Linked DNA regions of Homo sapiens. The protein of the gene in region 2 purifies or fractionates together with the protein of the main gene of each other region. This does not show direct contact. Each region holds a gene or a part of one and is shown on either strand. Other genes may lie near its edges. The genes, in order: TMEM9 and CLCN4.

The links.
Region 1: the proteins of CLCN4 (region 2) and TMEM9 purify together in Homo sapiens (co-immunoprecipitation; 3 studies listed by BioGRID and IntAct, with this or other methods). This does not show direct contact.

What each region holds. Positions count from the first base shown.
Region 1 is NC_000001.11:201,136,579-201,144,491, forward strand, and holds part of TMEM9 (proton-transporting V-type ATPase complex assembly regulator TMEM9 isoform a precursor), read right to left. Parts: intron 7,374-7,913; coding exon 7,242-7,373; intron 1-7,241. UniProt on the Homo sapiens protein: Transmembrane protein that binds to and facilitates the assembly of lysosomal proton-transporting V-type ATPase (v-ATPase), resulting in enhanced lysosomal acidification and trafficking.
Region 2 is NC_000023.11:10,148,279-10,164,313, reverse strand, and holds the start of CLCN4 (H(+)/Cl(-) exchange transporter 4), read right to left. Parts: upstream 7,340-16,035; 5' UTR 7,214-7,339; intron 6,026-7,213; 5' UTR 5,763-6,025; intron 1-5,762. UniProt on the Homo sapiens protein: Strongly outwardly rectifying, electrogenic H(+)/Cl(-)exchanger which mediates the exchange of chloride ions against protons.

The DNA.
Region 1 (7,913 bases), on a different chromosome or scaffold from region 2:
AGGACAGCTCAGCTTCCTCCCTATCTGACTCTGCTGATCCCCTTCCCCTTTGCTTTCAGAACTGTTGCTGCCGTCAAAAGCATCCTCCCCTAATTACCACTTCTCTGCCTCTGAAGCTCCGGAGCCTCTGCATTTCCTGCAGGACCTGAACCTGATCTTTGGAGAGAATTAGAGCTGAGGGCCAGGCCCACACCCCCGTGGGGATTTCCTCCCTAGCTTTCCCTGCCTCTCATCTCCTGCCACACATCTCTTAAGGGATTAGTGCACTTCTCTAAGCCCAGAGCCGCCCAGTAAATGCAACTTTGCTTCTAATGCCCCAAGCTGGCACGGCTTCTGTCACCATGCAGCTGCTACGCTGGGGCGAAGGGGGGTGGTGAGGTGAGGGTAGGGTGGACAGAGAACAAGCTGGCAGTGAGGAGGCTGGGAGAGGGTTCATCATCATCCTCTCAGAGCTCTGAGGACTTCATCTTGTGAGTGCTCCTCTCTAAGCTGCGTTAGAGATGGACACTGCCTTCTGGGAGCCTCCCGCCCAGGTCCTGAGGAAGGCTTCCTGTGCCAGGCTAGGTGAGGCTCAGGCAACGCCTGAAAGGCACGTGTGGCCATGTCAGGCAGGGGGCATACTGAGCTTGGAATTAGGACCCCTGGGTTCTGTTCCTGGGCTGGGGATCACCTGCCCCTTCCAGCCTCAGCCTCCCCTAGGCTCGCGTCCCAGGTGGAACTACAGATCCACAGCGGGGGCTGGGAAGGAGACATGGCCTCAGTCACTTATGAGGCTATGTGTCCCTGAACAAGTTACTTTATTTCTCCAAGCTTCAATTTAATGTAGTAAATGTAGTCATTGAGACTTTTTTCTGCTATACGGTCATTAGGAATTATAGTTACCAAATTATCTAACACACACACACACACACACACACACACACACACACACACACACAGAGTGAAAAGAAGTTTCATAAAACAATACTTAGTGTAATGCATTCTGATATTCTTTGCTCTGTTCCATTCCATTTTTTTAAAAATCCTGGTCATGACTCACAGAATTCATTTCATGACCTAATGGCTTGCTTGAAATACACTGGTTTAAGATTAGTAGATGGGTATGGCAAAGTTAAATAACACACATATAAAGCACTTACTATCCTGGCTGTCACAGAGCTAGGGCTCAAGAAATGTTTGGTTTCTTTCTTCCCTAGGAGCGATGACTAATATCAGAGCCTAGCTCTGGAAGCCACTAGGCAGTAAGGCTGGCGGCTGGCTGCCAGGAGAAAGCCTGTGAAAACTGCCATGGCTGCTGCCCCTCCTTCCAGTTCCATGCCTTCCCTGTTCACTGTGCTGACTGAGCTGGCCACAGTGCTAAGACCAAGCCTCCACCCAGTCCTGCCTCAGTGTGGCCGTCTACATGAGGTGGGCACTAAAGACCCATCTGGGAAGCTATTGGCCCACCGGGACTTGGCTCTGGGGGCTGGATTGCCTTCTCTTCTTCTTTCCATTCCCAATCTCATCCTTTCTGGGACCATCTTTCTCATGACAGGGCTCCAGTGTGTGTGTGGGGTGGGGTGCTACGCTTGGAAGGGTGGGGCAGCTTTAGCCCTGCCCTCCTTCCACTGCTCTGTATCTCAGGGGAGCGTCTTGAGAAGGGGAAGCCAGGGAGAGCCCAGAGCACAGCATTAAGGGAACATGCTGAAATTCACCACATTACCACAGTATCATTTGTTTTCCCTTCATGTAAAGTCTTAACAAACAGCTCCTAAGTGGGGGAAAGCTGCCACTGAGAGGCTGAGTTTCCATCGCTAATAGTCTGATTAAAAGGTATTAAAGACTCCACATCTGTTTCAGAGACAGCCCAGAGTGGGGCCTCATCCTTGCTTGCTCTGCAGCAAGTATGGTGGGTGGAAGTGGGAGAAATGCCACCAGTTCCTCCCCTCTCCCTCTGAGGCTGGGCCTCCGGTTAACTCGGGAGCAGAAGGGCAGTTAGGAGGGGAGGCGGGTGGAGCCCCTCCCAATCAGAAAAAGAGCTTGGACATGGATGGATTCCCAGGAGGTCCCCAGGGGGACCAGACCAGTGTGACTATGACAAGTGCCACTATGTGCCAGGCGCTCTGCTAGGCACTTTACACAGATTATTCCCAGGCTTACAACACTGGCAAATGGGTAAAACCATCCCCTATTGTAGCTGCAGAAACTGAGGCTCTGAAAGATGAATCATCTTGCTGCCCAAGGCTGCATGGCTGTTTAGTGGCCAAGTCGGAATTTGAACCCATGTACGTATATCTCTTATCCTAGGACCCAGCTGGATCCTTCTTTGGCTGGTTTCTCCTAAGAGGGAGCCAGCATGGACAACCAAAGAGACAGGCTGGTATATTTCCCCACAGCTAGAGCAAGAACAGAGCACTTCTAAAGGAACCAATGCTCAGGACATCAAGCGAGGCCCTCTTCTCCACACTGGAAGGACCCAAGTAACTGTGTGGATAAGCCCCAGCTGATCAAACTAGCCCTGAGCCCTTCAGGCCGTCCCAGATGAAACCCTCTTCAGTCTGCCCAGAAGCACTGGTTCTGAGCTGGCACTGGACTTGGCCAAAGCCTGATGACAAGGAGACAGGGAGAGTGAGAACCCCACCTCAGGCGGCTCTCCTCTCTCTGGCTGCTCCTCCTCCCTCCTCCCCAATCCCAGGCACAGGAGCATGACCAGGTGGTCTCATCACTTACCAGCCACTCAGCAAAGCATGGTCCTAGTGCAAAGCCCTTCAGCAAGAGGACTATACAGCCTCTCTGAGTTTTCCATGTTTGACCCAAGTCCTTGCTGCTGTTGCTGAGTCCCACTGCACCTCTGCTGCGAGGCTCTCCCTGACCCCTGCACGCTGCGGCTAGGGCCACCTTCCTATGACACACCAACTCATGCTGTTTCCCTGCCCAAAAACCCCAGCTGGGACCCACCTGCTCACAAATAAAACCCTGCTGGGCCTGACATTCAAGGGCACTCCCAGCCTCACCTCCCCCCTTACCCCCCAGCCCAGCCTCTGGCCACACTGGTCCATGCATCCTCTGTCTACCTGCGGTGATCCTCACTCAGGCCCTTGTGCACGCTGCCCCTCAGGCTTCCCTCCAGCAATCATGATGCTACTTAAGTATTAACACCTGATTGAAATAGCGCATTCTTAAGGACGAGCAAACACTTGTAAAGCTTCCATACACACGATCGCAACAGTTATGCTGAGGTAAACATGATTATGTGTATTCCAGACTTAGAAAACTAAACCAGGAGGTTAGCACCAAGGATAGTAAATGGCAGGGCTCGGCCCCTCCCAGGACTGTGATTAACCACAATGCTGTGCTGCCCCACTGGAGGCTCTAGAAGCGTCTGTTGAACCGCACATCTTTCTATTCTGCCCTCAGGGGAGGAGGCCGACTGGATTGCCCTCATCAGTGTGTCTGTTCCGTGTTTCACTGTCAGCTTCCCAGGGCTGGGGTCCTCAGAACACAGCTGCCACCCATGTGCAGACAGGAGGGGAGACTGCTCCTCAGTGGCCCGAGTCTTCTCCCCGGTGCCTGCATGTTCCAGTTCCCATCATCATCATCACCTTTCCTTGATTTCCCTGTATACTCTCTCCCAAAGGGGGCCCAGAACTCTACCCACTGCCCCAGCAGGGTGAGCACTTTGAAGACCTCTCCAGAGCTTGGGCCCATGCTGTGAGCAGCGACATCCCCAGCCTCAGAGAAACCATGTGTCTCTCTTCAAAGAGGGCCCAACCTGCACATCTAAAACAGCTCTGTTTGCCGTTTCTGCCCCAGCAAACATGCTTGCTTCCTCCTTTCAAAGGACGTCTGAGCCCAGGGATTATGCCTAATGCTGCTGGAATCCCAGGGGAGGCAGCGCCCAGCAATCAGGGCCTACTGAGGCTCTGCCAGCGCTTTCAAAGGGAACATGACAAGCTTTCATCTCCCTCCATGAACGGGGCTGAGGCTGAGGGGGAGGCCTCCTCTTCCTCTTCCAGTTCTTTACCCCCTGGGCAGGAGAGCTCCTGGTCACAGGAATTGGGGAGAAGGAACCAAGGGGTCCCTAACCCTGAAAAAATGCCCTGACCTCCAGATCTCACCCCTAACTGGGTCCCAGACTTCTGGGGCGTAGGGCCTGAAAGCTCCTGGAGCCTAGACAGAATTTTCCTTCTAAAGTCATCGAGTTGTACAGGCCTAGGCGAACTTTCAAGGAACCCAAGAGGCCATGTCCTGACTTTGTTCCTCTTGGGGTGAAACCCAGAGACATGGCTACAGCCTAGGTGCTGCTGCCGCTCAGCTGAATGCCTGCCCCCCAGCCCCATGTTTCCCCACATCCCTTTCCTCTGTGCACTGAGAGGGGCAGTAGATTATCCCTCGTCGTCCAGGACTAGGGCCCCCAGTCTCTGTAAAGACAAGCTCCTTGGGTTCTGTCCAGCCCCAATGCCCTGTTCATCCTCCCTGCAGTTCAGCGGTCACTCTCCCAACCACCCTGAGTGGGCACTGAAAATCCCCCTCTGCCAGGAAGCCTTCCTTCCCAGACTAACACAACGAGAAGGGTAACTTTCCGACCCCTTGTCTAGTAAAGAGGGGCCTCCCAAGGCACCTGACTTTTCAGCTGACCACCCGTCTTACGAAGCCAGATCTTACTGCCAGCCTTTACGTTTCCTGCTGCTTTACCTGCTTTTGGCCGTCTTGGGGCTTAAACCCCCGAGGGCAGACATAAGGTCTGTGCAAATCTCAACACTGTGCCACCTGCAGGTTTTCTGAATACACTGAGAAAAGCAGAGTTGCTGAACCACAGACATCTGTGACCTGGAGACCACACAGAATCACAGGAGGTGAGGGGATAGAGAGATGATGCCAAAGAACGGGACTGGGGGCACTTCCTTACCCAGCCAAGGGCACCCAATGAGATCTACCTGCCCCAGGCCACAACCAGCGAGAGTTGGCTGCACCCTAGGTCAGGGTATCAAAGAGATTAAACACAACTTTTTATGAGCTTTTAGAACCTCAGGTGAGAGGTGAGGGCGTGTCATCCTGTCCATCCCAGGGCCGCAACTTCCCCTACAGGAGGGAGCATGGCTCGCCAGCTTCTATGTGCTGCAGCCTATCACAGCCTACTGTCCTCCCAGGCAGTCCTGCCACAGTTACCAAATCTAGCCCTTCTTCCTCCCAAGGCCCCCTCATACAAACAGGCTTCAAATGAGGAGCACTCCAGGTCTCCTGGGGGTAAGAGAGACCTGGGTTCATACCCAGGGACGGCAAGCTGCTCTCCCCAAGCTGCCCTCCCTCTGGCTCCCTGGCTAGGATGGCAGGAGACATAACAAGGCCATGCCCCAGAGCCATGCATTCCACGGAAATCATTGGGCTGCATCTCTCAATTACTACCCCAGCCAGGACTGCAATTACCACATTACCCCTAATCGCTGAGTGTTTATTAGCGATGCTCCTCCCCTATCAGAGCTGCTATTACTCTACATTAATAACCAGGTAGGCACACGAGGTTTCCTCTTGAACACAGACCACCCAACTGCCAGTGCCACCACCTCCCAGGCCCTAGCTCCAATGGGGCGAGGCTCATCCCCTCTGCTCCACCTTCGGCCAAACTCATGTCAGCAGGAGGCTGGGGGCAAACTGGGAGCAGTCCAGGCATGTGCGCAGGGTGGGGCAACACAGCCCTCGAGAGCAGCCAGGCTCCCTCCCTGATCTGCCCTTCTCTTCGCTGTTCATGCTGGCCCAGACCCACATCACCCAGGCAGCTTCACACTTAGACTTGAGCCCCTGGGTCCTCTTTTTGGTGAGGAACTGGCTCATGGTCTTGCAAGGGAGCCCAGCCCACCTACCCCATAGTTAGACCACGCTGTCTACAGGAAGACTCCCAGCCTCCTCCTCATATTGTGTTAAATCTCTCTGTCCCTGGATGAAGCCAAGCTGTCTTCTACAAACTTCTGAAGGCAGCTATCATGCGTCTCCTTTAGTTGTTTTTCTTTTCCTTTAAGCTAAATGACTCTCAGTTTCTTCAACTAATTCTCTGAGGCCTAGCTGAGGCGCTTCCCGACTAGATATTCCTTATGCATACGCATGAGTTCACTCAGGGCATCCCTCCATCAGTCAATAAACAGGAGTATCTTCCAGCAGCAAGGCCCTGGGGACAGAGCTCAGAGTGGAAGCAGCAGCCAACCCCGCCTGCCTTGGCTCCACGCCTCTAAGCAGCCCGCTCTGCTGTCTCATGCACCCAGCTAGCTGGTACATGAGCGCATAAAGGGGGAGCCCGAGGCACACGGGGCTGTGCAGTCCTCACTCAGGCAAGATTCCCCTAGACCACCTGGGGAGTGCAGGGCTCATCACAACTCTGCTCAGCATGGAGGTACACCACGTCTCACTCCCACGAAGAGCCCTTCACCTGAGCCCTCCTGTCCCCCCGGGTTTCCTCGCCATGGTGTCCACAACTTTTTAGTATGAGGATGAATGGGAAGACGGTGACAGCGCTTGTTAACTGCACTGGGCCTGGTCCAAGCCCTGCCAGCTCCCCACCATTGCATGAACTCCTGGAGGCCTTGCAGGCTGTCTGGGGTCAGTGGTTCCCCACTTTCCTTGTCAGATAAAGCCAAACCCCCTTAGCTTGACATTTGGGACTTTTAATAATGTGACCTAAATCTACTGGCCAGCTCTCTTTGCCACTATTCAAACATCTCTACCCTATCCTTGCAACGCTCAAAATTCCTCACACATACTTGGCAATGTCCCCTGCCCGGCACCACTGTCTCATTCCTCTTCCGCTCTTGAAATCCTACATTTCTCCCCAGACCCTGGAGCTCTGGTTTGCATTGAGCAAGTGTTCAACAGATGTTTGTGGAATCACTGGACAAACAAATTAACCTGCTGCCGTCCAGTCCACCAGCAGCTTGTCACCAATGTCTGAGCACACGGGGGATATCATGTGTATCTATGTGTGACTGGCTCTGGCTGGCTGCGCCCCCTCTGCCTGGAAGCACAGTACAGCAGGATGACATGGCTCCCCCGGCTTGTACATGGAGACTGCTTGATGCCCGGTGTCCTGCTTCATCTGGAAGGGCAAAGAGCAGGTCCCTGCTGAGTCTGGGTGATGTGTACGACACTGACCAGAAGAGCAACTTGAAGCATTTTGGGGAGGTGGGACCTGGACCTAGGTGACGCTCCTCTGGGTTTTGCCCTGGGGACGCACATGCAGGGACCCAGGGCCTGGGCACTCAAAGCCCTCTTACCTCATTCTCCTCCTCATTGTGCAGTTGCTCAGTATATGCATCCGGCTTTCGGATCAGAGGGTCCACCAGCATCAGGAAGGCCATGTAGAGCAACAGGGCACCCACCACGGACAGGTAGATGACAATGATGACCTGAGGAAGAGACCGGCGTGCCTATGAACCATTATCTGAGGCCAGGGCTAGAAATCCGTTGCTAGTCTTGGGCCATCTGTGTCCGGCTGGCAGTGACTCCTCAAGTGGTGCACTAAGAAAGGACTTGGAGGCAACGTGGGCTCAGAGGGAAAGCATGCCCAGAAAGGAAAGGGAGGGCCCTACTCCACAGAGGAAGCACTCTGTCCTAACTTGAGGGAGTCTGCACAGCAGGCATCACGACAGCAGGCAGATGACAGAGGAAGAAGTCTGGAGCCTGATGCCGAGAGGCTCCCGGGGTAGAGATGGGAACACAAGGGCCTCCCTGGCTGTAGAAGAGTTCATGATGAAGGGTGGAAAGCAATCAGAAACTAAGAGCAAGGAAGAACAGGCTGTGGAGAGGCTGGAAAGCTGGGGCCAGGAAAAGTAAACCTGGGCTGGTGGGCTCATTGCTCCTGTGGAGAGCAAGACGGATGGGGCGCGCTGGCCCACTCATGGCATGCCCCTGAGCAGAGTGGCTAGGGCTGGTAAGAAGGTGTGTGC
Region 2 (16,035 bases):
ACGCCGATCTCCCTGCTTTCCGCAAACGCTTCCTGTCCTGCCCTGCCTCAGGGCCTTTGCACTGGCTGTTCCCTCAGCCCTGAGCACTCAGCCCACCGTGCTCAAGTGGCTCTCTCTCCATTCGGATCTCTGCTCAAGTGCGACCCCTCAGAGAGGCCTTCTTGCCCTCCCTGACCAGCGTTTGGAGTCCAGTGCTGTGCATCCTTTGCTGTCCATCCTTTCACTCAACACACAGCCTATCCAACAGCTACTTCCTCTTCCCTCAGCTCAAATCAGTCCCGTGAGGGCAGGAACCTTGTCCATTTGGTCCTAACATGTATCCCACTGCCTAGACTTGTAGGACTCAACCAACTGGGGGCAATACTGACCCCCAGGGGACATTTGGCCATGTCTAGAGACATTTTTTGTTATTACAACTGGGAGATGGGGTGCCACTGGCATCTAGTGGATGGTGGCCAGGGATGCGGCTCAATACCCTACATTGCCCAGAACAGCCCCCCATAAAAATGAATCATCTGGACCCTAACGTCCACAGTGTCAAGGTTGAGAAACCCTGGCCTAGACGCACAGACCCAAGGAATATTTGCTGAATGAAGAAGTAATTAAGGGGCCGGGAGCAGTGGCTCAAGCCTATAATCCCAGCACTTTGGGAGGCCGAGGCGGGCACATCCCCTGAGGTCAGGAGTTCGAGACCAGCCTGGATAACATGGTGAAACTCGTCTCTACTAAAAATACAAAAATTAGCCAGGCGTGGTGGTGCGTGCCTGTAATCCCAGCTACAAGGAGGCTGAGGCAGGAGAATCACTTGAACCTGGGAGATGAAGGTTGCAGTGAGCCGAGATCAAGCCACTGCACTCCGGCCTGGGCAACAAAGAGAGATTCCATCTCAAAAAAAAAAAGAAAAGAAATGAAAGTCATTTAAAAAAATACTTATCACAAAAAAAAAAAAATTCCTGCACATAAAAAAGCCACCCACTGAAAATGTGGTTAAACAAAGGTCTTGTTACCAAGGGAAAGTGTGTATGGGGGAAGGGATAGGAGGGGGGACTGTCCCCACACACCTCTTCCCCCAGGTTGGTAGAAGAGATGCGTCATCACACTAAACCCCTTTGGTCTGCTACTGCAAGGCTGACAGGTGGAGAGGAGGCAGGTAAGGCGAGGACCTCTGGGGCAAAGTGGCTGGGGCCTCTGGCCCATGTGATGGGGGCACCTGGAGCACAGGTTAAGCCCTGGGCTTCACCCCCAGACCTATTCAGTCAGAATCCCCAGTGTGTCTAAGGGTTTACATTTCTTTTCTTTTTTTCTTAATTTTTTATTATGAACATTTTCAATTACACAGAACATCATCCAGAAGAATCCAGTGAATAACACCAATCAGACTGAACAGTTGTTCACATTTGGCTCTATCTGCTTTATCTCTTTCTCTCTCTTCATTTAACTGAACCATTTAAAAGTAAATTATTGATCTTGAAGCCTGATCTTCAAAGTGTCATCTGGGGACTCCTTGGGCTCCCCAAGTCCCTTTAAGGGAGTCCATGATGTCAAAAACATTTCACAATATTCTGACATTGTTATTTGCCTTTTTCTAAGTTCATTCTCTCATGAGCATACAATGGAATTTTCCAGAGGCTACATGACATGCGATATTGAAACAGATTGAATGTAGAACCAAGTATGAGAATTCATCTGTCTCCTATTAAGTCATACATTAAAGAGATCTCAAGAAAACATCAAAAAAAGAAAAAAAGTAAATGACTGCTACCATGACACTTCATCTCTAAACACTTTAGTATACATCTCTAAACAAGAAGACTTTTCTACATAAACACATGTATTAGCTATCTATTGCTGCCTAACAACTTACCCCAAAGCATAGCAGCAGGACACAAACATCTATCATGTCACTGTTTCTGTGTCAGGAACCCTGGAGTGGCTTAGCTGGTGCCTCAGCTCAAGGTGTCTCACAGGGCTGCAAGCATCTCAAGACTCAACTGCGGCCAGGCGTGGTGGCTCATGCCTGTAATCCCAGCACTTTGGGAGGCCAAGGTGGGCGGATCACCTGAGGTCAGGAGTTCGAGACCAGCCTGTCCAACATGGCAAAATCCCATCTCTACTAAAAATACAAAAATTAGCCAGCCGTGGTGGCGTGTCCCTGTATTCCTAGCTACTAGGGAGGCTGAAGCATGACAATCGCTTGAACCCAGGAGGCGGAGGTTGCAGTGAGCTGAGATCGCTACCACTGCACTGCAGCCTGGGTGACAGACCGAGACTCTGTCTCAAAAAAAAAAAAAAAAAAAAAAGACTCAACTGGGCCTGAAGGGTCTGCCTCCGAGCCCGCTCACACCCTCACACCGTCAGCGGGTCTCAGTTCTTCTCAGGCTGTTGGAATGGACCTCGGGTCCTCACCACGGCAGATGGACCCTTTTGTAGGGCTGATCACGACATGGCAGCTTCAGTGTAAGCAACCCAAGAGAGAAAACACACCCCAGGCAGAAGCCCCTTTACACCCTCATGGTGGAAGTGCCTCTCCCCCACCCCTTGCTAGACGTATTCATTGGAAGTTCATTACTTGGTCCAGACCAAACCCCAGGGGAGAGGGTGATGCCAAGTTGCAGCTGCCAGGGGTGGGGATCACTGCATCTGTCCGAGGGGCTGCCGAACACATCACAGACTGTCACATCTAATCAAAGCAGCAGCAGTCTCCTAGTGTCACCTAATAGCCAGTCACATCAAAGCATCTCCAGGCATCCCCAAAATGCCTGTTACACGTTTGTTTGGGCCGAATCCAATCGAGGGCCACAAGTGATATTTGGCTATTCCGTCTCTTAAGTCTCGTTTGATGGAGAATACCCCACCTCCCTTTTTAAAAATTTCTTTCATGATATTACCTTGTTGAAGAGACAAGGCCAGATGGCTCATACAGAGCACCAAGCCCACTGGAGGCACACAGGAGCGTGACAGGCCTGCCCTGGGATGTCCGTGGACTGAAGCCTGTGAGGACAGTGGCGTGGGGAGTGGATGGAGCCAGCTGCTCTCACCCTAGCCCTCTGCACAGTGGGTCTTCCTCACCGAAGGCCAACCTCCCCCACCAGGGCTTTCCTATCTCCCCCCAGGAGACCATTTTCATGGTGCCAGGAAAGATGAGACAGACAGAGAGAGAGAGAGAGAGAGAGAGAGAGAGAGAGAGAGCAAGCTGATGGCAACGGAAAGGGAACCCAGGGGAGGGACACATCAAAGTCCAAAGCCTGGGGCACAAGGAAATGTTTTCTGGCCATTCTAAGCACCCCACCACCACCACATACACACACATAGTAAACATGTCCCCCCCTTGCTATGCTGCTGCCACCCCCGCTTCCTGTCTCTTGGGAGTTTCCCAGCCTGCAGACCCTCTCACTTCCATCCGTCCCTCCCCAACAGCCAAGGAAGCAGAGTCAGCAAGCACGGTTGGCCCCACTTTACAGATCCGACAGCAGCTCTGCAGGGTGAAGTGATGCAGCCACGGTCACCCTCCTAGGTGTCAAAGCCAGATCTTTAGTCCTGGACTGAAGCTTAAAGCATGCGACCATGTCTGCCCAAGCGAGTGTCCGTGTCGCTGGTGGTGCGGGCCATTTGTGTTTGCCTCCTCCTAGCTGCATAGACATTACCACCCTCTCGTCCTCACCACGTCCCCCACCAGCACCAGATGTCGTGTCGTTTCATCCTCACAACACCTCCGAGTGGACACTGTTATTCTCATTTTTGCAGACAAGGAAATGGACTCTCAGCTGTTAGGTCTAACCCAGGGTTAGACTACGTCCAGGGACGTGCTCCAGGTCTGCTGAGCACGAAGCCCCGGCAGGTTTCCACACACGTTCATCTAGTGCTCTGTTTTTTTCCTCTTTCCCTAACACTCTCCTTTCTGCCAAGCTCGCCTCCCAGCTACAAATGGCATACAAACAGCTCCTCCCCTTTTCACAGAAGCTATTTCTGGAAATTCACAGCATAAAAACGCCTTCACATTGTGTTTTCCAATATATGTGATATTAAGAAAGGGAATCAGATTTCTGATCAAGGGCTTGGCATCAAACCAATCATAAGAAAATGAATTCTTGGAGCCCGAAGAAGAATATTTCGAGATCATCTCAATCAGTGGTTCTCAACAGGGGGCAAGGGAGCCCTCAGGGGACATTTGGCAATGTCTGGCAACATTTTTGATTGTCACAACTGGGGGCTGGGAGGGGGAAGTGCTACTAGCATCTAGTAGGTGGAGGTCGGAGATTCTGCTAAACATCCTACAATGCACAGGACAGCCTCACCACAAGGAGTTATCTGGCCCCAAATGCCAGTAGTGCCAAGGTTGAGACACCCTGACCTAAATCCCTTTGTTACTTTGAGGACGAGATAGTCGAGGCCCAAAGACACTAAATGACATATCCAAGGCTGCACAGTCACAAAGCCAAAAGTGGAATCTAGGTCTGTATTAGATCCACCTCTATCATCTGCTTTGCTCTATCTAGGGTTGGGCTGGAGGAGAAGGGAGGGCGGGGACCCGGGGATCTTAATTTGTGTAACCAAACTGAACCAAAGGAAGAAAATTGCAATAAACAAGTTACTAAATTACTGCAGCAACACATCTGGGTGTCCCAAATTCTGAAAGAAATGCCTCCTTCAATTATTGATGGAAATAGCATTGCTTTACAGGCCCCCCAACGTTGCTGGTTGGTCAAATTATTCATGATGTGAGTTCCAATACAGTTTAGTGACAACAAAGCTTCCAGAAGGGTCAGGTTTTAGAGGGGAAAATAATGCCACATTCTCCCCCTAAGGGTGCCCCCACACGTCCTGGCTGTAGTTTCTTCCTGACCCCGAGAAAGGCATGTAAACGCTCTAGAAACAGTCCATTAAAATCCCCCACCCACTGTCATGCTAGAACTGAAGTCACCTGACCCCTCCATCTGGCGCTGTCATCAAGCCTCTCCATTCAGCAAGCGAATTATCAGCGAGAGAATTAACAAGAACTCTGGGAATTCTTAGGTTTTGGTGTTATCTCCACCCCCACTCTCTGCTAAAGATCATTTGGTTCTTAGAGATGTAGCTGTCTCTTACGCTCACATGTTATCTTTGGAAGCTGCAATTTATTTTTATTGTATTGGATACCGTTCTTTTTTAATCTACTTAAAACACCTGGAAGGAAAAAAAAAATACGTTTCTGACGTATGCCCTGTAAATGCTGGAACCTTGCAAAATAATGCAAAGCAATTTAGATTGCACATCTGGCTCTTAAATTGCTAACCAAGAAGTTTCCACTCCCCAGCCCGCTTTTGCTTTGAAAGAAATGAGGCTAATTACTGAGGACAAAGGCCTGTAATTAGTAAACATGTCGTTATTTAAGAAGCAGAATGACACTAGGAAAACACTTGATAGTTACCTCTTAAAAGCCCCTCTGTCTACTTAGAATGCATGCAGTGTGGTCACTTCAGATTTTGTTCCCCCGCCGGAGCGGTTTTTTCCCTCCCCCGTCTTTCTGTCTGGCCCCTGCCCGCTTTCTCGGGGCGGGCACGCCAAGACCCAAGTCACGCGTGGGCCTGCCACGGGCCATCCCCGGCCGGGTGCATGCAGCTGCAGCAGGCAGCTGTGGGCAGCAGGCGCCGCAGCAGCCAGAGGCCCCACTTTGGGTTTCTGGGGGCGCAGCCGGGCTGCAGGCCCGCGGGCCGGGCTCCACCTGCAGCGTCCGCGCTGCCGGGGGCGCCGGGGAGGGCATCCAGGCGCCGCGCGCCCCTTACCTGCAGTGCCGCATCGCGCCCGCGGCCGCCCACCTGGACAGCATCCTCGAGCATCCTTTCTTCAGCGCGACGGCTGCGAGCGCCGTGACATCACCAGGAGGCGGGCCCCACGCTGCCACGTGACGCCCTCGGGGCGAGGCAGGGAGGTGTGCGCGGGGTGGGGGGAAGACCCTGGAAGTCCCGGGAGGTGAGGGTCGATGGCCAGAAACCCTCGCGCTGGCCGCCCCTCAGGCGTTTCGCTTGATGTGTGCAGCTTGCCTGGCCTTTCGCGAAGAATTATGAAAAACAACACACAGGAGGAGAAATCCAAATTATTACAGGCTCCAAGCGAGTAATAGGATTTCAAAAGAATTAGCAATAAAGGGATTACAGTGAAAGGAAATACAATTTCATGTTTTATTTTAAAACTAGTATTTATCAAATGCAGTGGAGAAATAAACATTTTGTGCAAATCAAAATGACACAAAATATAGCATGGACATACTTTGCCTAGAGTTTCTATGTTTCAAGCCGTATATCGAGTATTATACCAAACACTTTAGTTCAAAGCAATTCATTATGGAACATTATACTAATTGCACGGATGAATAATGCTTTAATTACTCTGAATAGCTGCATTCCAATATTAATTTGTATTTGCCAAAGGAAAAAATGGTGACACCACGTATTTCTACTACTTACTTAAATATGTGATGATTTAAAATAAAGCACTGCTACGTGAGCATGGTTGTATTTGTGTCTCTGTTTTCTTACATCTTCTGGCAAGGCATTTAATCTCTGAGACATGACTTAATTCACAATAACTCATTATTTCACATTTTCTAATCTTTATCACATTCTGAAGAAGTGAGTCATTTTACTATCACAGAAAATATGTACAATGTCAACATTTCTCATTCACAACTGAAACAGCCTTGCCTAGAAAGACTTTAGAAAATTACAACTGTGATAATTTTGTAAATTTGAAATAGCGTATTTCAAACTTAAGCAGTGCACATATAAACTTTTCTTTTGCCAAAATACACAAGCGTTTTTGAAATGTAAAAGGACAAAAGCAAAGACTGCTTTTATTTGTATTCCAATTGCAAATAGATTCATTTACTTTCACTTGAGTTAAAAATCACAATTTTAACATTCCCTTTGCTCACAGCCCTGAAGGAGACATGAAATAGATTGTTTTACAAGCAGGCTAGAGTTAAGTTTACTTGCAGTTTATTCCATCAGCTTTCGTGTCCTTCTATATTTAACCCTGGCCCTTATACCGTGATTCCCTCCAAATTAACCAAATTTCTGTTCAGAAGGTTAATCTCTAATTTGGGGATAAATACAGCCCTTGACTCTCACAGCGATCAATTATTTTCAACACCAGATTTTAAAAATCAACAAAGTCGCAGTGTACTTTACTAGGTCACTCCTCTCAAATTTGTTTTTCTGAGTGATAAGCAGCTTACCTTCCGCTTTCAGATTCTGAGATAAAGTTAAAACGCTACCGAAATCTCCTGCTCCTTTGGGTTGAGGGTCTAATGGAGGCAGAAACTGACAAGCTCATTTTCCTGCCAGAGGCAAATGTCGATTTCAGCCCGGAGGGCCCCGGAGGCCGGCTGGGAGCATCACGTGCTCGGCCCAGCCACTCAGCCCTGCCCAGCCAGCCTGGTCACCTCTTGGCTCCGGAGCCCCGCCGTGCCAGTGTCATTCGCCTCCTACCCCCGGAGCATTCGTGTCCAGAGAAAACCCGGCGTCCCGGAGACAGGACGCCCCACCCTCAGGGGCTGGGCTGCACGGAATTCTGTGACCGGATTTTCCAGCATCAATGGGAGGTGGTGGGTATACAAAATGCCCTGCAGCCTGAAGAGGATGGTAGCACGGTGCAGACAGCCTTGCTCCGTATTCCGGCTTGGCTGAAATGACGAAATACAGGCAACCTTCTTCATCCTGGAGCAGTTTTTTTGCAGTAGGTTAGTTTCACCTTCTCTTTTTTCTAGGTGATTGCTCAATTGTAAAAAACATTGCAGCAAACCGGCAATTCAGACAAGGCCCAGAACTGGGCCAAGCAATTCTCAACAGAATGAGAGAGCTGTCTGAACACCCTCCACCCTCGCCTTTCAAATTGTCATTTTAGCCAAGATTAAAAAACAAAACCAAAAAAAGCAAAAACCAATACCACCCATGGGAATGTAAGTTGAGCAATCTTTCTGGTGGTCTGTTTAGCATTTTTCCTACCAAATGCCTTACAGATACACAGTTTCGCCAATTACTCCGGGCCCTACAGCTGTTGGTATCATGTGCTCCAGCAACTTGATGTCCAAGAATTTGTCCTGGGGTGTGGGGAGTGGGGGTGGGGGGAAGAACGGTGTGCAAACCCCTGACTAGGGAAAGTTTGCTGCAATATTACTTATGATCTCAAAGCACTGGAAACAAGTTAAATCTCCAAAAACAGGGGATGTTTTAAATTATAAGCCATCTGTGCAGTGGAAGAATTAAAACTAATACGGTGGTACACACGGATGGAAAAAGACATGTGCAGCGGATTAAATGGGAAAAAAAATGGAAGCTTCAAAGCATTATGTGCTGAGTGATCCGTCGTTTCTATGTAGGTGTAATATATTTATATCTACACATATACCTTTGCGAACACAGAAAACTATTAGGAAATGAATTCACTAAAGTATCAAACATGGTATCTCACTGGTTAGTGGGATTAAGGGTGTTTTAAATTTTTCTTCTTTTAAGCTTAGAGATATCGTCTAATTTTTCCACAGTGAATATGTATTGCTTTTATAGCAACAAAAAAATTGTTTTCTTAAAAGCACCATATAGACATGATTATGGAATAAACAAACAGTTTTGGCTAATTTTTTAATGCAGATTTCATTACTTGAAGATCCTGAATTCTTAACCACAAAGTCCCGAGGGAACAATCCCTAGCCATCCTAGATTATTCTGCTCATGAAGATCTTTAGGAAAGAAAGTGCCATTCAGGGGCCGTTGTTAATATTTAACCATCTGTATGTCCAGTTTTAATTTCTCTTCCATTTAAACCTACTTCTTTTTACTTTGCTCTGTGTGGAGATAGAAAGCTGGTTATTACCATCCTTCATGAAAAGATTCTTTCAATAGTTACGGAATAATAACCTTTGAGTTTTTTGTTCATTCGAGACAGGGTCTCACCCTGTCTCCCAGGCTGGAGTGCAGTGGCACGATCATGGCTCACTGCAACCTCAAATTCCTGGGCTCAAGCAATCCTCCTGCCTCAGCCTCCCAAGTAACTGGGACTACAGGCTCTTTCCATTGTCTTCACAGATTTCTCTTTCCTATCCCTTTGAATCTTCTACATTTTTTCTCTTATCTGCCAGTTTTCTACAGATGTCATACAAGGTTTAGAACAGCGGTTCTTAATGGGGTGATGTTGCTCCCTTTCCCCCAGGGGACATTTTTGGCAGCCACAACTGAAGTGGGAGGAGCCGTGTGCTCCTGGCATTGAGTGGGTAGAGGCCAGGGCTGCTGCTGAACATCCTACAGTGCACAGGACAGCTCCCTCTCCACTCCTACCTCCCGGGACAATGAACATTTCGGCCCAAAATATCAGTACAATAGTGCTGAAGTCGAGAAACCCTGGTTTGAATTACTGATGGAGTATAATTTGATGCCCAAGATGTTCCATTTCCCAGCCATTTTCAAGAGTTCCCCATTGTATGATGTGCTGGAAGCTCTCTTCATTATAAATCCCTTAAAGGTAGTACTCCCAGCATGTGGGACGTGTCATTGCCCACCTGTGTGTGCACCACAAACCACCTCTGAAAAGAGACATCGGGAACTGCTAAGGGTGTTATCTCTAGGGAGGAAAACTGTGTGGCTTGGCACAGAGGTGGATGGGAAATTTTCATAGATTTGGATGCACTGTATATTTTTAAAACAGACATTTTCCCACCACTAAATTGTTAAAACTCACTATTCAATTATTCTATAAATGGTGGGTTTTACAAAACCTAGAGGTGAGGACCCTATTGCCTCTTTGTGTCCAAGCCCCCATATATATGTGTGTGTGTTTGTATATATATTATATATTATACATATATATTTTATATATATATATATATATATATTTTTTTTTTTAGACAGTCTTGCTTTGTCGCCCAGGCTACAGTGGTGCAATCTCAACTCACTACAACCTCCGCCTCCCGGGTTCAAGCGTTTCTTGTGCCTCAGTCTCCTGAGTAGGTGGGATTACAGGCGCCCACCACCACACCTGGCTAATTTTTGTATTTTTAGTAGAGATGGGGTTTCACTATGTTGCCCAGGATGGTCTCGAACTCCTGATCTCAACTGATCCGCCCGCCTCAGCACATGCACCCTGTAGAGAGTGCCTTCCTCTGCAGCATGTCATCTGATTCTCGCAGCAGCTGGTTAACAGGAGTAGGGCAGATCTGCTGTGCACCCATTTTGCAGACAGGCTCAGAGACAGCCCTGACATCAGCCTCCTGTTCTGATGGAGGCTGGAGCACCCTGGGGTCAGGCTAGGTCTTCTCTGGCCAGGACCCCAGCTTCTTCCCCAGGCGCCTCTGACCATCCCCTCCACCCTTCTTGGAGCCACAGCTTCCTGGGACCCTCTGGACAGCACTCACCAGCTTAGACCCAAATTATTTACTCGCATTAACCCCTGAGCTCCTGAGCTCCTGAGCTCCTGGAAGGACAGAGGGGAGCTGCATTTACCTGCTCTTTGAAAGCCCAGCATATAGCACTGTCTCTGGGATACAGTTTGTTACACCAGAACTAAAATTTTCCCAAATGTTCTCAGCCAACCGCTTTAATCATACACCATCTTGAAGTATTACATGGCTGTATTGCAGTATTACTGCCTGTGCTATTTTGCCAAGCTTCTGCAAGCCCCACTTTTCCCTTCTGTAAAACAAGGAGAAGGAGGAAGAGTAATAGTATCCACCACTTGTAGCTGAGTGAGACGTAAGTGAGAGATCTGGAAAGAGCACAAGCAGTGCCTTATTATTAGAATTTGAGACACAAGAAAAGTTGTGTACCCCTAAATACAGTGATCAAGATACCCTCTTGTATTTTGAACCAAGTGAAAAAAGTCAGTAAAGACCCTACAACCGAAACACACACGCACAGAAACTATGTATAATGCTCCCCGTGGCCCAATTTATTTGCACCCACATAAACCTCCCCTTCAGATACCTCCTGGCCAAGTAACCCCTCGCTGATTGGAATTGACTATGCTCCCTTGCCCAACACTGAAGGGGAGTGAAACAAACCACAACAGCCTGTCCTTATTTAAAATGTTCATATCTTGTACATTGTAATTTTCTGCACTAATTTTGATTTTATAAATTATATATGTACATATATATGTACATATATATGTGTGTGTGTATATATATACATATATATGTGTGTGTGTATATACATATATATATATTTTTTTTTTTTTTTTTGAGATGGGGTTTTGCTCTCGTCGCCCAGGCTGGAGTGCAGTGGCATGATCTTGCCTCACTGCAACCTCCATCTCCCAGGTTCAAACAATTCTCCTGCCTCAGCCTCCTGAGTAGCTGGGATTACAGGTGCCTACCACCACACCTGGCTAATTTTTGTATTTTTAGTAGAGACGGGGTTTTGCCATGTTGGCCAGGCTGGTCTCAAACTCCCGACCTCAGGTGATCCACCCACCTCAGCCTCCCAAAGTGGTGGGATTACAGGCGTGAGTCACCGTGCCTGGCCAGTATATTATCTTGATTACTGATTTTTGTGGTGCCCTCTTACGTTTTGCACCCAAGGTAAGTGCCTCCCTCACCTCCTCCAAATTCCAGCCCTGAGTATCTGGTAAATTATTCTATAAATGGGGGATCTTATAAAACCTGGAGGTGAAGACCCTATTTCATCTATCTTTGTATCCTGAACTCCTTTACACCTGAATACACCATCTCCAATGAATGAATGAATGAATGAATGAGTTGCTTCCATACCTAGCTGGGGGCTATGCACATGGCCAGCATCCTAAAAGATTTGGGGAATAAGTAAGTGACATGGGATATAAGAATATGCAATCCAGCCTTTTCTAGGCATTCTGGGCTGTGTTCACAGATCTCAGCAGACATCCAAAAGCTGCAAACTCAGACCCCATTGCCCTGACATCGATCCAAAGTGACAGCCTTGACTGACGTGACAAACAACAGCTTTGAAATCCCTCTGCTTTTGCAGTGGAGTGGAGTTGTTGTCAAGGACATTGTCTGTGCTGGGAAGCCTGAGAAAAGAGCCCGTGTAGCTCTAAGGCCTAAGAGAAGTGTTGCCATCCCTTAAAAAAACCATATGGTGCTTTTCCTCTCTGACAATAAGAACTGTGGAGCTGCCACTGTCTCCTTTTTCTCTGTGAGTGCCAGGAGACTCAGATGTTGCCAAGGCAATTCAGTAGGCCTGTCTCCTCCAGTAGGCATATGCACAGTGGCATGTCAGTCATCGTTAAATAACCCAGCTCTCCAAGGGTGGGGCATGGGGAGGGAGGCTTGATTTGTAGCTTGTGCTGATTCTCCTGGTGTAAATTCTCCTGCCATGCCTTGCTTCGAACTACTGAATGGGGAGCTGGAAACTGATGCACGATAGCCATCATTGGACAGCATCTCCACCACGCACAGACAGAAGTCAGTTATCTTATTGCACCTGGACAGTGAACAGCTTTTCTCACCCAGGACCTGGCCTCTGAGAAAAGCTGCTCCTTGTCCAGGTGCCTTGGGTTGGAAATGGGATTTTTCTAGAATTGCACTGCTCTATGGTAGCCACTAGACACAGTTACTATTTACATGAAAATGAATTTAACTTAAAAGTTCCAATTCAGTCCCTCAGTCACACTAGCCACATGTCAGATGCTCAAGAGCTACATGTGGCTTGTCACTACGGTATTTTAGCGCAGATATAAAACAATTCCATCATTGCAGATAATTCTATTGGATGATGCAGTAAAATATTTCTTTTAAACGAACTCCATTGCAATAAAACAATTTGTGTTTATTACTCATGGGATTCTGCCTGTAATTGCAGGGTAGAAACAGCAATCTGGCCAGAGCGTCTGTTAGTGGGAACAATGGAAAGGCACAGATTCCAGAAGGCCGTGTGCCTCTAGCCACAGGTCTCAGACAAGATGCTTCCAAATGCCACTGAATGTGCAGCCTCTGCCGTTGGACTTCACCAGGAGCCTGGGAATCTTCTAAGAGGGGAGCGTCTGATCACTTGTTCCAAAGCAAAACTTGAGATGCATGCCGGAGTACATACATACTGAATACAGGAACCGGCCCTTCAAAGCTCAGTGCTTCTAGGGTGGGCTGGAGAATGACCTCCCCAAAGATGTTCACCCCCTTATTCCCAGGACCTGTGAAGATGTTGCTTTACGTGACAAAAGAGATTTTGCAGATGTGATTAGATTAGGGATCCTAAGATCGTGGGGAGATGATCCTGGGTGGCCCCAGTGGGCCCAGTGTCGTCACAAGGATCATTATAAAAGGGAGGCAGGAGGGTCAGAGTCAGAGAAGATTGGCAATGGAAGCAGAGATCAGAGAGGGAGATTTGAAGCTGCTACACTGCTGGCCTTGAAGATGGAGGATAGGGCCATAAGCGAACAAATGCAAGTGGCCTCTAGAAGCTGGAAGAGGCCAGGAAACAGAATCTCTCCACTAGCCTATGGAAGGAACACAGCCCTGCTGGCACTTGATTTTAGCCCATTCACACCCAGTTTAGACTTCTACCCTCCAGAAAAGGAAAAGGATGAATATGTGTTGTTTTAAGCCGCTAAGTACAGCAGCCATTGGAAACGAACAGAGCCTTGGCTCATTGATTCATCCGATTCCTATTTACGGAGCCCTCCGTCTGCACCAGGCAGAATGCAAGGCCCGAGGGTCAGCCACGCTCGGGAGTGACTGTGTCCCTCTGCTGAGTCCCTCTTACAGTCCATGGGGAAGACAGTCATGAAACAGGTCTTCCCAATCAAGAGTGGGGAATCCCTGATGAGAGAAGTGTTGAGTGATGTGGAAAAATACCGCTAGGGGTTGAATTATGTACTCCCAAATTCATATGTTGAAGTCTCAACTCCCCAGTACCTCAGAATGTGACTATATTTGGAGATAAGTTCTTTAAAGAAGTGGTTATGTTTTCACATCAGGCCGCTAGGGTGGGGCCCTAGTCCCATCTGACTGGTGTCCCTATGAAAAAAAAAAAAGGAGACCCCAGGGTCATGCATGCAGAGTGATGACCACGTGAGGAGGCAGCAAGCTGAGGGGAGAGGCCTCGGGAAACCAGCCTGCCAGTGCCTTCATCTTGAACTTCCAGCCTCCAGTGAGAAAATCAATGTCTGTTGTCGAAGCCACCCAGTCTGTGGGACTTGGTTACGGCAGGCCTAGCGAACTCATACACGTACATAAAGCAGAGGGGCCAAATTTCTTCAGGGATGGAGACCACTTCCGGCCTCCTTGAGAAAGTCATGGTTAAGCTATCCAAGGACAAGTGGGAGTTAGCTCAAGTTGGGGACTGTGGAAGAGTGGACCAGAGAGAAGACAGGGAGTGCCCATAGGTAGCCAGGAGGGAAAGGCCTTCTTTCTGCTACAGCAACTGCAACAAGTAAAATTTGGCCACAGTAGCATTGCTCAAAGTTATTTTTGCCTTTTGTTTGTTTGTTTGTTTTTGAGACAGAGTTTCACTCTGTTGCCCAAGCTGCAGTGCAGTGGCATGATTTCAGCTCACTGCAACCTCCATCTCCAGGGTTCAAGTGATTCTCCTGCCTCAGCCTCCCAGGTGGCTGGGATTACAGGCGCCCACCACCACGCCCGGCTACATTTTTGTATTTTAATGGAGACAGGGTTTCACCATGTTGGTCAGGCTGGTCTCAAACTCCCGATCTCAGGTGATCCACCTGCCTTGGCCTCCCAAACTGCTGGGATTACAGGTGTTAGCCACCATTCCCAGGCTAAAAGGTTTTTTGTTTGTTTGTTTTGAGACATCCAGAGTAATGAGTGTCTTTTGTATGCGAAAGAGATGATGGTAGCTGAGGGCCCTAGGTAGCCTCAGGATAGGGGCTGGTCACCAGTCACCAGAAAGACCAAGGCAAGATAACAGATTGGGGACTTTTAACCCCACCTCCTTGACCTCCGGGGAGGGGAGAGGGGCTGAAGCTTGAGTTTATCACCAGTGGTCAATGATGTAATCAATCATGCCTATGCAATGGAACCTCCATAAAAACCAAACACCACATGTTCTCACTCATAGGTGGGAATTTAACAATGAGAACACATGGACACAGGGTGGGGAACATCACACTCCGGGGACTGTTGTGGGGTCGGGGGAGGGGGGAGAGATAGCATTAGGAGATATACCTAATGTAAATGACGAGTTAACGGGTGCAGCACACCAACATGGCACATGTATACATATGTAACAAACCTGCACATTGTGCACATGTACCCTAGAACTTAAAGTATAATAAAAACAAAACTTCAGTAACAAACAAACAAACAAAAGCCCACAAAAGGACAGGGTTTTCCGTGGGCTTCCAGATAGCTGAATACACAGAGGTTCCTGGAGGGTGGTGCCTAGGGAAGGGCATGGAAGCTCCGTGCCTTGCCTTCCATACCTTCCACATCGCTTCCATCAGGCTGTACATCTGTATCTTTGGTAATATCCTTTATAACAAATGGCTAAACATGTTTCCCTGAGTTGTGGGACCACTCTAGCATGTCAGTGAACTTGAGGAGGGGGTCATGGGAACCCCCATTGTATAGCCAGTCGGTCAGAACCACAAGCCACAACCTGTGCTTTTCATTTTTGTTTTTTGAGACAGATTCTCACTGTGTCACCCAGGCTGGAGTACAGTGGTGCAGTCTCGGCTCACTGCAACCTCCGCCTACCGGGTTCAAGTGATTCTTCTGCCTCAGCCTCCCGAGTAGCTGGGACTGCAGGCGTATGCCACCATGCCCAGCTAATTTTTGTATTTTTAGTAGAGATGGGGTTTCACTGTGTTGGCCAGGCTGGTCTCGAACTCCTGACCTCGTGATCTGCCCACCTCGGCCTCCCAAAGTGCTGGGATTACAGGCGTGAGCCACCGCCCCGGCCACTTTTTTTCTTCAAGACAGGGTCTCACTCTGTCACCCAGGCTGGAGTGCAATGGCATGAACACGGCTCACTGCAGCCTTGACCTCTGGGGCTCAAGCTCAGCCTCCTGTGTAGCTGGGACCACAGGCACATGCCACCATGCCCAGCTAACTTTTTGTATTTTTTTTGTAGA